Homo sapiens: one gene and its partner. The protein of the gene in region 2 interacts with the protein of the main gene of each other region in a pairwise test. Each region holds a gene or a part of one and is shown on either strand. Other genes may lie near its edges.

Region 1 (6,282 bases), on a different chromosome or scaffold from region 2:
TTGTCCACCTGTAGGTACAAAAGTAAAAGACTGAAAATATTTACTAAATCAAAGAGATTTTTGCCCTAGGAAGGTTAACTAATAAGAGACTTTTTTTCCTAGGGTTTAAAAAATGTTAAATCACATTTTATGACAGTCAATTTTATATCCTAATGGAATCTCTTCTGGTAGTGAGAGAAGTTCCAGATTTTTCGTTGTAAAAATAGTCATATAATGGTCTAATATCCAGTTCTGTCACATTTTCTCATTACCTATCCCTCACAGGACTTTCCCTCAAGTCCCTACCTGTCCCCTCTGCCCCACACTCTGGCCCGGAGCCAGAGGATTGGCTCTGGGGCAGCAGGAACCTGTTGTTTTAGGAGATGGTGACCTTCGAGGATGTGGCTGTGCACTTCACCAAGACAGAATGGACTGGCCTTTCTCCTGCCCAGAGGGCCCTGTACAGAAGTGTGATGTTGGAGAATTTTGGGAACCTGACTGCTTTGGGTAAGGCCATTTTCCTCCTAGGACTCAGATCTGTACTTTTCCAGTTTCCTTCCTTCTTTTACAGCCTGGGGGGAGGAGTGTGGAGTGGAGAGGAGAGGTTGTCTCTTGTGTCCTCCACTGAGTGACTGCAGAGCTGAGGCTCAGTGACCAACTTCAAAGATTGCTGGGTAGGGAGAGGTCTTGGGTCACTTTGGTCTCCCAATGAAGGGAATTACTGTCCCCTGGTAAGAGTATGTTCCATCTTCCAAGAGGCTCTGCACAGTAAGGAATAAGTAGTAGTTGTTGTCTGGGGAAGGGCATGTCCCCTTCCCTGTGTTTGCTCATGCCTTGTGGATCTCACTGACTTACTTATCCTTGAGTGTTTTTTTTAGGAAGAAGTCACAAATGCTCAGTTTCCTGTTGATCGGAATCTCTTTGGCCTTCTCCAGTCGAGAACCCTCTTCTGTGGGTCTTATTCTTACTGAGACTCCTGGGGTTTTCCTTCTTTTGACACAGCAGATACAGGGCTGAAAAGTACCATTTTCTTCCTGTTTTCAGGGTACCCAGTTCCCAAACCTGCACTGATCTCACTTTTGGAGAGAGGGGACATGGCTTGGGGCCTGGAAGCACAGGATGATCCCCCAGCAGAGAGGACCAAAAACGTCTGTAAAGGTAGGTGAGGCAGATTTAGAACCAACAATTGTAGCGTTTTATGGAGCACTGTATTTTAAAATGAATCATGCTGGGCAGGATTTAAATAAAATAGATGATTTCACCTAATAGGTAAAATATGAAACGTTTCTCACCAATCTTAACTCTTACCAACATGTAATCACTCAGTACGTCTCATCTGCAATCCTTGAATCCATTGTTCCTTTCTGAGTTTCAACATTGCCTACCTTAGTTGTCCTCCTTGGTTGGGATGGATTTATTCAGGAGCAGTTTTTGAGCAACTTGCCATGTGCTGAACGTTGTTTAAGAAGTTCTGGCAGGTACAAGTTATGGAGACAGATGTAAAAAGCGAAAAAGAAAAGTATTAAGTGCTGTTGGGAGTGGGACGGAGAATGTGAAGGTAAAATGGGCCAGATCTTCCCAAAAGTTGGCCATAAATGGGGAGAGCTGAGTCAGATAACACTAGGAAGTCATGGCATGGGAGGAGCTTTTTGAATTCATAGGAATTCAGAGCTGAGCACAGGGCGTGAGGTGCCTTTAGAATAGGCAAGTGGATGGCTAGAGCAGGCCATTGAGAAGGTGGGTGGAGAGTCTGAGATAAAAGGCAGGTCTGAAACAGTACTCTAACACAGCTGGGTTGAAACGATCCCCAGGAAGAAAAAATGAAGGCTGAATCTTAACCATTAAGGGATATTTAATTTCAGTGAGAGAAGGAAGAGAAAGTAGACAGTCAAATAGATGGGGGCCACCAAGAGCAAACAGTGAAATTGAAGGCAGAGGCAGGAGTTTCAGTGCAGGTGGTTTGCAGAGAGCAAATACGTGGAAAATAATGAAGCTAGCACAGCACTTCAGCCTCTTATTCTAAGAATCTGAAAAAGAATCATCAAGACAATTGAGAACCTGTTGGTTTGTTCTCACACGCTTCCTCTGTCTGGTGATTATTCTTTTTCAGACTCTTGGTTACCTTGTTTACTTCAATCTCAGATTACTCTCCTCTGAACATTCTCCTTCGGAGTTCCCTTACTCCTTTAACTCACACTCATAGGATGAACTTGATTAACCATCACATGAGTCCCAGGTAACCCACATTAATGTTAAAACCAAGCCCATCATTTCATATAAAATGGATTGACTTTAACTCATTTAAAATGTCATCCAATCTTTTGGAACACAAATGCCATTTTATGGGCTGTTTGTCTCCTTTTTGCTGATAGGAGAAAGAATACTCTCAGTCTGGGTGTGTCTAAGTAAACTGTTCATCCCTTTTCAAATAGAGAGTCTAGGACAGTAGTTTCTCTGCATGTTTGAGGTTCAGCAGTTTTAGGGCGTTTCCTCATCGTCTATAGTCCATGTGTGGTTCTGCAGTTAAGAACCTCTGAACTAGGTAATCTTACAACATATTGGGAATAATACTCTCTAAGCACTTCTGTGATTTTCTTTCTCTCTGTCTTGCCACAACCCAGTGTCTGTAATGTTCAGTGTCTTAAGTCTTTTGGGACATCTGCAGGGTATGAGTTTTTAAAAAGAACAACAATTCATCCTTTGCCTTTGCTTTCTGATACTGTTCTGTTTCACTTTCTGATTCTAAGTCTTGCCAGCCCCGATGTCACTACTTGTTCTTAAGACCTGTGCCTTCTTTGGCATTTTGTAGGCTGTAAGTAGCATCAATTCAAAAGATACTAGCTCATGCCAGGGATGACCAGACATCATTCAAATATTAGAGTAGAAAAGCTTAGGAAGCAGTCTCGTGTGTTGTGTCCACTGATACCCTGTTCCACCTCAATGTTCTCTGCCTGTGTGATATTTGGCACTTTCACTTTAACAGCCTTTTCTTCCCAGCATGCTGATGTGAAAGTTGAAATGATCTCTTTTAAAGCCTTATCATTTTCAATGCTCTATTATTTCTAGTATAGTTCTCAGGTGGCATTATTTGTGTTTTCTATCTCTTATGTCAGATGTTGAGACCAACATTGACAGTGAGTCCACATTAATCCAGGGAATTTCTGAAGAAAGAGATGGGATGATGTCACATGGTCAGCTGAAGAGTGTCCCTCAGAGAACTGACTTCCCAGAAACACGTAATGTGGAAAAGCACCAGGACATCCCCACAGTGAAAAATATCCAAGGAAAGGTTCCAAGAATCCCCTGTGCAAGGAAACCTTTCATATGTGAGGAGTGTGGGAAATCCTTCAGCTACTTTTCTTACTATGCTAGACACCAGAGAATCCACACTGGGGAGAAACCTTTTGAGTGTAGTGAGTGTGGAAAAGCCTTTAATGGTAATTCTTCGTTAATTCGGCACCAGAGGATTCACACTGGAGAGAGACCCTATCAGTGTGAGGAGTGTGGGCGAGCCTTTAATGATAATGCAAATCTGATCAGGCATCAGAGAATCCACAGTGGGGACAGACCCTATTACTGTACAGAGTGTGGGAATAGTTTCACGAGTAGTTCCGAGTTTGTTATACATCAGAGAATCCACACTGGGGAGAAACCCTATGAGTGTAATGAGTGTGGCAAAGCTTTTGTTGGTAATTCACCCCTACTTCGGCATCAGAAAATCCACACTGGAGAGAAACCCTATGAGTGTAATGAGTGTGGCAAAAGCTTTGGAAGGACTTCCCATCTAAGCCAACATCAGCGTATTCACACAGGGGAAAAGCCTTATTCTTGTAAAGTATGTGGACAAGCCTTCAATTTTCATACAAAACTAACTCGGCACCAGAGAATTCACAGTGAGGAGAAACCCTTTGACTGTGTAGATTGTGGAAAAGCCTTCAGTGCTCAGGAACAATTAAAAAGGCATCTGAGAATTCATACTCAGGAGTCTTCCTATGTATGTGATGAGTGTGGAAAAGCCTTGACTAGCAAAAGAAATCTTCATCAGCATCAAAGAATCCATACTGGAGAGAAACCCTATGAGTGTAGCAAGTATGAGAAGGCCTTTGGGACTTCTTCCCAGCTAGGTCACCTTGAGCATGTCTACTCTGGAGAGAAGCCTGTGCTGGACATTTGTCGTTTTGGCCTCCCAGAATTTTTTACCCCCTTTTACTGGTAATAGTACACTCCAGTGAAATGTACTGAGTGGATTCCGTCTTCTACTCAGGAATGGAATGTGTGACACAGGCCTGACTCAGCCTCTGATCCATCCCTCAAGCCACAGTTAATGATTCAGATGTCAGTAGATGACCAAAGATGGTTCAATTAGAGTCCCAGGATTGCAAGAGCTAATAGGAACAAATACTCTCCCCCCGCCCACCCCCATTGGTTTTAATGCTGAGAAGAAGAACTAGACTCTTACAGAGGTGAGAATGAAGTCCACACAGCAAAAATGCATCTGAGAATTGGAGAGCAGTAAAAGACTGAAGATAATGTTTGAACAGCCACATACACCATGCCTGAAGCTAAAAATATATACGGGTTTTTGAATTGCAGCAGCCAATAAATTCCATTTTTGTTTGGTTGGTTTTGGCTTTGGCACACCTGAGTTAGGTTTTCTTGCCTTGGAACAGAATTTTGACTTAAACAGTGTTGTCATTGTAGCAGTTGTTTGAAGTTTTCAGGGATAACATACCTGATGGAGAAATGTTTTGTGTGTATGATATATGGGAAAGTCTTTAGTTATAGTCATGGCAGCTCCTCAACCCCATGATTGTGATGAGATTGGGAAGCCCACTGTAACACTGGAGAGCCCAGGTTATATCAGACACCACTAGTAGATAGAAGTTCTAACAACTTGAGCTCTGTAACAAAAATCTCATTGTACTACAAAATTATGTCTGCACCAGTGAATCCATTCTCAAGAAAAGTCTTAACTAGGAAACTAAAAGCTTTCACTCTTAAAGCTTTCATTTTCTGTTTATTCAGTTTTTTATTTGGAATGGATGCTACTCTAGGCCTTAAACTGAGAAATGCCAGGCTATTGTAGCTATTATATCTTGGTATTTGCCATTTTAATTCCTAGGACAGCACGCCCGCTTTGCCCTTGACCTGGCTAGGGAGCCAAGGAAATGCCATGGTTCTTGGTCATAAGACACACTGCAGAGATCTCTCAGTAGGAAAACAGGGCTGGCCCTTTTCTTTGGTGATGAACACAAACTGCACCCTTTTTTTCTCCCACGTGTCCTTCCGCTGCCAGCCAGTGTTGGAATCTCCCTACCCAATTCCAGACTTAATTGCTTACTGCGTCTAGCACCTGGGTGGCTTCACCACCTCTTCCTTACTTGTCAGCAGATGAATGAGCAGTTGTATCATGTGCTTGGGTTGACCAATGAATGATAGACTTGGGGAATTGAGTAAACACCTTTTAATTGAAGTATAACACAAACATAAAAATGCATGAGTCAGCCAGGCGCGGTGGCTCACACTTGTAATCCCAGTACTTTGGGAGGCCGAGGTGGGCGATTCATCAGGTCAAGAGATCGAGACCATCCTGGCCAACATGGTGAAACCCCGTCTCTACTAAAAATACAAGAATTAGCTGGGCGTGGTGGTGCATGCCTGTAGTCCCAGCTGCTCAGGAAGCTGGGGCAGGCGAATTGCTTGAACCCGGGAGGCGGAGGTTGTAGTGAGCCGAGATTACACCACTGCACTCCAGCCTGGTGACAGAGTGAGATTCCTCAATAAAATAAAATAAAACCATGAATCATGGTTGTACAACTTGAATTTTTACAAAGAACATAGCCTTATAATCACCAAGATAAATAAATAGAACATAGGACCTTACAAGTCTCCTGTACCTTGTTAGAGTCCTTATGGAACCTCTACCCTGACTTCTATCACCAGAAATTATTTTGCCTGTTTTTGTTCTTTTGTGTCAATGGAATCATCAGTACAGATTCATTCTCATTGCTATGTCGTATTCCATTACATGAATATACCACAATTTATTGCTTACTGTCGGTGGGCATTTGGGTTATTTCCAGGGGGATCTTTTTGAAGGCAGAAAACCTAAAAGCCACTCAGAAAAAAAAACTGGTTAAAGTAACCATGGTCAGGGACTGCTTCAAATGCTGCTGCATCAGCCCAGCTGCCCTGTAGTAAATGATAACAGCAGTAATTTTTTTTTGGCACTTAACATGTGACAGACACTTTCCTAGTCACTACACAGATTTACTCAATATGATAACTTTATGAAGAGTGTGC
Region 2 (6,957 bases):
ATGTGAATGTCTTTTTTTTTTTTTTTTTTTTTTTTGCATTTAGCCCATTTTCTTCAAGTCTGTGTTGAATTTAAAAAAGTACATCTAAGGCTATATTGTAAAGAAGAAGGCAATTTATAGATTGAAAGAGTTTCCATTTAAATTAGATACAGTGTTTGCATCCATAGGAATGAGAAAGTTCAGAGAACTAACCTTGACGTGAACTACACTTGCATTTATTGATTTATTGATTTAGGGACAGAGTCTCGCTCTGTTACCCAAGCTGGAGTGCAGTGGCTTGATCTCAGCTCACTGCAACCTCTGCCTCCCAGGCTCAAGCGATTCTCCTGCCTCAGTATACTTGCATTTATTACAGTTCACCTTATAGATCTTGTGATGACACAAGTTAACCACTTGTGGGTATTTGGATCTCAGTGTTGCAAAGGCAGAATACAGTGTTTGAAAGACAGGTAATGATGAGAAGAGGGAAAAAATGTATGTGAAAGGAAAGGGCAAGAGATGAAGAAAAGCAGTGTAACAAGGATAAGTGATTCTGTCTCCTCTACTTTTGGAATCAATTAAATTTTTCTATATTCCTCTATTTGGATATTCAGGGTTTGTAACTCATTTCTTTCTGAGTTGAGGGGTGACATAGGTGGGCATTATCTCATTTTATTATGATTAATTTTTAGGCTTATGTGCACAAGAGTGTAATGGAAGAACTGAAGAGAATTATTGATGACAGTGAAATTACAAAAGAAGATGATGCTTTGTGGCCTCCCCCTGATAGGGTTGGCCGACAGGTTTGTATTTAGTGATTCTTTAAGTGTATAAATATTAAAAATTGATAATACTATTTTGTTTCCCGTTATTTATTTGGAATGAGTCTAAGTTGATTCTTTGGCTTTCTATTTAATAGGCACCTGGTAAATTCTCTTTAATTTTATCTCTTAGTTCTGTTTTTCTGTGCTACCTCCTAGTAGTGAAGGAGTCAGTGCATAGCTCTAAATTTAGACATCTTTCTCTGTAGTCACCCCAGCCAACGTTAGGATGTTTTCACAATGCAGTGTTATGAATAATTTCTGTTGTGTGTTAATCACTTTTATTAAGAATATGACTATGTAAAATTTATTTTTGCCAAATCATAACTTCTAAAATTCTTACTTGCATCCCTATACCCCAGAGAGAAACTTGATTGGTGGTTTCTTTGTTAAAACTGATGATTGCATTTCCCTCTCATATTCCTTCAGAATAAATGATGTTTCTCAGGCTTCTGAAGAACTCTGAAGGCCTAATTTCACTCTGTAAAAAGAAAGTTTGGTTTCTGAATTGGGTCTTTTCAACTCTTGGAGAAATTCCTTCAACAACCCCTGGAAGGAAGAAACATTTAATTTCACTTTTGTATATCCCTGAGGATTGTACTTTGTATCACCTTCTTTGAATAGAAGAAAATGTGGAGAAATCTAACACATGCTGACACTCTGTAGGAGTAACTTAAGTCTTCTGCTTAAAGAAGCATTATTTAGAAAAGCAAAGGTAATAGTTAACAGTATTTATTTTAAGCATCGTATCACTTTTAAAAAGTAAATTTAGGCCTCAGTTTGTTTTATGCAGATACACATATGTACTAAAAAGCAAACCACAGCAGCTAACCTTTTATATCATTTAGACTCAGGGAGAGCCTAGTATTTTATCTATTCACTTAAGGATGTGTTCATGGGTTTTGGTTAGTGGGGAGGAGTAGGCATGCTTCAGAAATTGCCTTTTGTATCAAGTCAAAGGTTTTATGGCTGTTAGAGCATCTTAGCTAATTCTCCATTCTGTGTGTGTCATAAACTGCATAATTAGGCCTCTGATTAAATAAATAGCTAGGATTGTCTTCAATAGTGTCTGTTAACTTGAAGATTCATTACAGATATAGCTTTTTAATTATTGGTTTTAGGCCTGCAGATAAACAATATAGGGAAAAATCTATACAGTAATTACAGCACACTAGGAACATCTACATTAGGTTGGTTTTTTTTTTTTTTTTTTACTAGTTCTTAATTTTAGTTATTTTGTGGAGTATTAGTTTTGAAGTCTTACCATCTTGGGATCAAATATAAGTACCATCATTATTAGTGGTTATAAATATCAACAAGTATTTTCTTCTGCTCTATGAGTTTTGGATTACACATTTGTAAAATAGGTTAGTAAGGTTATTTTCAAGATTACAGAGAGTACAAAGTCCCTACCACTAGGGCCTGACATACAGTAGGTGCTAAAGTGGTGGTGGTTATTAATATTACACATTTTATTTGTAGAATCTTCCAGAAAGAAAAAATGTGTATTTATCATATTAAAAATGGTCTTATACTCCAATCATTTTTACAACATGTGCTTCAAAGTGATGTCTTTAGTTTTTACTGACATTGTAAGAAATATTTCTTTGTCATTTTGTTTCATAGTGTCTTCTTTATGTCTCTGGAAAGCAATTCTTTGTTGGTCCTAAACTTGGGGGTAGTGCGCGTGAGCAGTCTTTATTTTAAGGATATAGTTTATATCTAAGAAACCATGTTTCTTTCCCCCTCGCCCCCCACTCCCTCTGTTGGCTGCTAGAAAACTTGCAACTAAAATTGGGATCTGCTTGTAGCAAGAATACAGATACCTCTGGGATAGATTTTTATATTAACTACATTTTTCTGCTATATTTTTTAGGAGCTTGAAATTGTAATTGGAGATGAGCACATATCTTTTACCACATCAAAAATAGGTTCTCTTATTGATGTAAATCAGTCAAAGTAAGTATGTTAAAGCATTTTGGCGAAGTTTTCATTATTACAGAGGCTCATTTTAGAACTATAGTCAGTTTGCTAGCCAAGATAATTTCAGTGGCATCCTATCAGTTTATTATGCAGATGTAATCCTGATTTTTATGTCATTAAAGGCTTATTATCTTGTCTCTCAGTAGAAGTTAGCAGAGTATTTCATTGATTGTCCAAAAACTTTTAATCCAACAGCTGTATATAATAATGCCCAAGTTGTATTAGCTACTTTGTATAAAAATGTGGATACAGTATCAGCAAATCCAAAGGAAAGAAATCCTTATTGGATTATGTCAGCCTCATTAGGCCTATATCATCTCACTGTCCTTCTTGGGCTCAATACTTGGGAAAAAGATGGAAAAAATCCATTATGGCCTAAGTATGCTTTAGCTATCGATGTCTTCCCAAGATCTGTCTCTCCTCTGCCCCAGGGTTTTGTAGCACATCCCATTTTCTTGGTCTGATCCTAGCCACTTATTTTTATTTGTGCCCATTCCCCTCAAAGTGTCCCCATAGTGCTCTTACTTTTTTCTGTCACCCTGAATTGTAATAACCTATTTGTCTGCTTTACTGGTTTGAATGTAAGCTCCTTGAGAACCTTGCTGTATCCACAGAGTTAGCATAGTGCCCTGCACATAATAGATGCTTTCAATAAATATTTGTTAGTGGAAAGGAGAAAGGAATGAATGCATGATAACTATTGGACGCAAAATCTGTGTTCACAAAGACCATCCAAATGCTTTTAAACTATCAAATTTCTTTTCCTACATTTGGTAAGGGTGTGGCATTGATACCCTACTGGGATTATAAATTGGTAATGGTTTTTGGAAAGCAGTTTGGTAATATGCATCAAAAACTGTTGACATTTTTCATTCACCTTTGGCCTAGTAATTTCATTTCTGAGCATCTCTTCTATGGAACTATTCCTAAATATTGGAAAAGCTTTATTATGCATGAAGATGCTCATTGAAGTATTATTTATAATAGGAAATTAACCCCAGTGTCTAACAAGGAGAGAATTATTAAATTAATTAAAAATTACTAGGGAATTTTTTTTTTTTAATGCTGTGGGGAAAGTAATGTAAAAAAGGGCACAAGGAATAATTTTAGTTATTAAAAAATAGAGAAACATCAAAATGTTTATAGTTATTCTATGAAATGGTAGCATTACAGTATTATTTTTTTCTGCTTTATTAGACATTTTTATGATGTGGTTATTACAATCATAAGGATATGAACTCTTTAAATACTAAAATGAATACTGATGAAGAAACTATTTTTTCGTATAGAAAAGATATTAATTGTATGTTCATTTTAGTTGTCAGCAAAATCCTTCCTTTCTCCTAAATTTTGTTAACTTAATTGTTATGAGATTTTGATTTGTTTTGTTTTAGGCATTTAAAGAATTGTTTTATCCTAGGAAGAAAAAGTAACTTTTACCTTTTTAAATTTTAGGGATCCTGAAGGCCTTCGAGTATTTTACTATTTGGTACAAGACTTGAAATGTTTAGTTTTCAGTCTTATTGGATTACACTTCAAGATTAAACCAATTTAAATTGTATGTTTTCAGGCTGTTTGTATATTTAATTAAGGGATGGGAGGGGTTATTTGTCATTTACAGTATTGGGGTTTTTATGAATGTGAAGCAAACAAAAAAAATTTGTATGTAAACTGAAAATAAGAAAATACATTAGCAAGCTTAATGGTTATCCTTACTTGAGTCCATATGGGTTGGACAGTCCCCACACACATTAAATTCTGTAAATGAAAGCCACCTTTTGTTAAAAATTTGCTCTAATAAAACATACCAAATCCTGGTTGCAGAGTAGTTTTTTGTTTTTTCCAGGAGGCTATGTCTCTAATTCACTTTAGAGATAATAAGAAATTGTTCTGGTAGATATATCCTGTGACAGAAGATACTTTAGGTGGAACTATGTAGCCAGATTCCCATCCATGAAAGGCAAGTGTAGATTGTCCCTTATTTCCTTCATACATGATTGGATTTAATTTTGGGGGGCTTATACAAGGTCTAGTTTTTTTTTACAGTTATGACAAACCCCTCAGGGATTATTCACATTTAAATATTTTCAGTTATAAGCAGTGAGGTCCTAAAGTGTTACAAGAGTACAGTCTACCCCATGTTAGGCATATCTTTGATTATGTCTTTATTCCTTATTTCACAATGTATTTGGTGTGTAGGGGAGGGGGGAGAACTAAATGAGTTTTCAGCTTTATAAATTGTTAAACATTTAGACAAACATATATGTATGTATGAATGTACATAAATATTTTTAACTCCTATTGACCACGAGTCTCACTTCAGTTTCCCAGTTCCTTTCAACCTCTTTCTGATAGATTTCCTCTTTCATTACTTTTAGTAACCATGTTCCTTGTTTCCTTTTATTCTTCCATCTGAAGCCCCACTCTTAAAAAGTTGCACTGTTCCAGTAGTTATAATCCACTTGCCCTAGGAACAAGTTAGCACTGAATTTTGGGTGGAATAATTAGTTTCTGAAGGCTTGCCAGGACTCCTGAGCAGGTAGGCTCTAGAGTCGGGCAGTCCAATAACTTTTTTGCAATAATGGAAACGTTCTATGTGCAGTCCAATAGGGTAGCAACTGGCCAAATGAGGCCTACTGATTACTTGAGGTGTGCCTTGTATAACTGAATTTATGGTGCTATTTAAACAATTTTTTTCTAACGTGAAAAGGATAAAACATTAAAAACTCTTGAGAACTATAAAGTGAACACCTATATGCCTACCCCTACCTAGATTCTATACTTAACATCTTTTTTACTGTAATATCTCTATTATAATAAATCTTGGTTTTTCACTTAACTGGTGTAATTGGTGCCAATAAACTACTTTTTTTGTAGTGCTATTTAATTTTGATTAAATTTAGGTAGCCACGTGTCTAGCGGCTACCGTTTGGACAGTATAGCTCTAGAGCATGGCTTGGTAACCTGTTTGCCATGGAGCACTAGATGGTCCTTTTCACTCCTCAAAATGCATGCCCATTGTCTTCAGGTTTGCCATGGAAAGTCAAATGATTTCCACTTCATTATGCAAGTACGCTATCATCTTCAGGTCTTTTGTATGTAAAATGTTTCTGTTCCAGTTGTAGACCTTGATGATTGTGCAGTATGAAATCGTATTGTAATTTTCTTGCATTTAGATGTCAACCTCAGAAACAGGAACAATCGTCTTTTGAACTTCCAGTAGGCCCACAGTTGTTGGTTGTTCCTCAAAACAGGTTGTGGCTCCTGTTGAATAAGATGATCCATTAAAAACTGAACAAGGTTGAGGAGAAATAGTGCTTACGTTGAAAAATCTTTAAGTCTTTGTCCCCGTTCTCTAACTTCCTTACGTTTTCGTTTATTTAGCTCTATCCCCACTATCTACTAGAATTTCTCATATTTAAACCAAGATGGGAGACTAGGTCATTAGGAAAATATTACCGTCTACAATTTTCTTATACTTTGATCTGTCTTTTATTTGATTGTAAGTTGCTGATGGACAGTGATCATTAGAAACTGAATTTTGTATAATACTAGTTTTATATGAAACTAGATTTTTATTGCGCTCAGGTTATGTTCCTTTTACCTCCTTCCTTAATAAAGAGACCACTTGAAATAATCAGACTTTTTCCAAGTACTGTCTGCACCTCATCCCACCTCTTCCCCATTCATGAGATAGTGCAGAACCCTAGCACAGTCTTTTCCATATAGTAGGTGTTTTTTAAGTTTGTTGAATTGGTTGCTGTCTTGCTCTGTCCTTAGATTATTTGCCTTTAGATTATTTATCTTTGGTATTTCATTGGTATCAGGCTGAGTCTATTTGTATGGATATTTTTAATGTAAATATTAATGTAACTGAGATGATTTATATATTCTATTGTTAGACTACTTCGTTTTGATTTGAAATGTGTGAACCTATGAGCATGGACTGTGCTGTAAGTTTAACCACTGACCCCTTTAATTAATAACTGGATTCCTAGCATGAATGGATAATGAAGTCGAATAGAAAATTTTAAAAATTTAATAAACAACAAAGGTAAATGAAGGATTTGAGGGTGAGTTCAGAATCTGCCTTGGCTGACTTCCGTATGATGATCAGTAAAGTTGGATAACTACCACTCAAAATCTCTGGCATCTACCTTGTCCTAATTTGAAC

Evidence for each region.
Region 1: the proteins of MAGOHB (region 2) and ZNF19 interact in binary tests that used the Homo sapiens proteins (3 or more experiments, as listed by UniProt).

The regions. Positions count from the first base shown.
Region 1 is NC_000016.10:71,473,083-71,479,364, reverse strand, and holds the end of ZNF19 (zinc finger protein 19), read left to right. Parts: intron 1-359; coding exon 360-486; intron 487-1,023; coding exon 1,024-1,137; intron 1,138-3,092; coding exon 3,093-4,195; 3' UTR 4,196-5,782; downstream 5,783-6,282. UniProt on the Homo sapiens protein: May be involved in transcriptional regulation.
Region 2 is NC_000012.12:10,603,656-10,610,612, reverse strand, and holds the end of MAGOHB (protein mago nashi homolog 2), read left to right. Parts: intron 1-671; coding exon 672-782; intron 783-1,229; exon of another isoform or gene 1,230-1,515; intron 1,516-2,676; coding exon 2,677-2,759; intron 2,760-4,238; coding exon 4,239-4,338; 3' UTR 4,339-6,420; downstream 6,421-6,957. UniProt on the Homo sapiens protein: Required for pre-mRNA splicing as component of the spliceosome. Plays a redundant role with MAGOH in the exon junction complex and in the nonsense-mediated decay (NMD) pathway.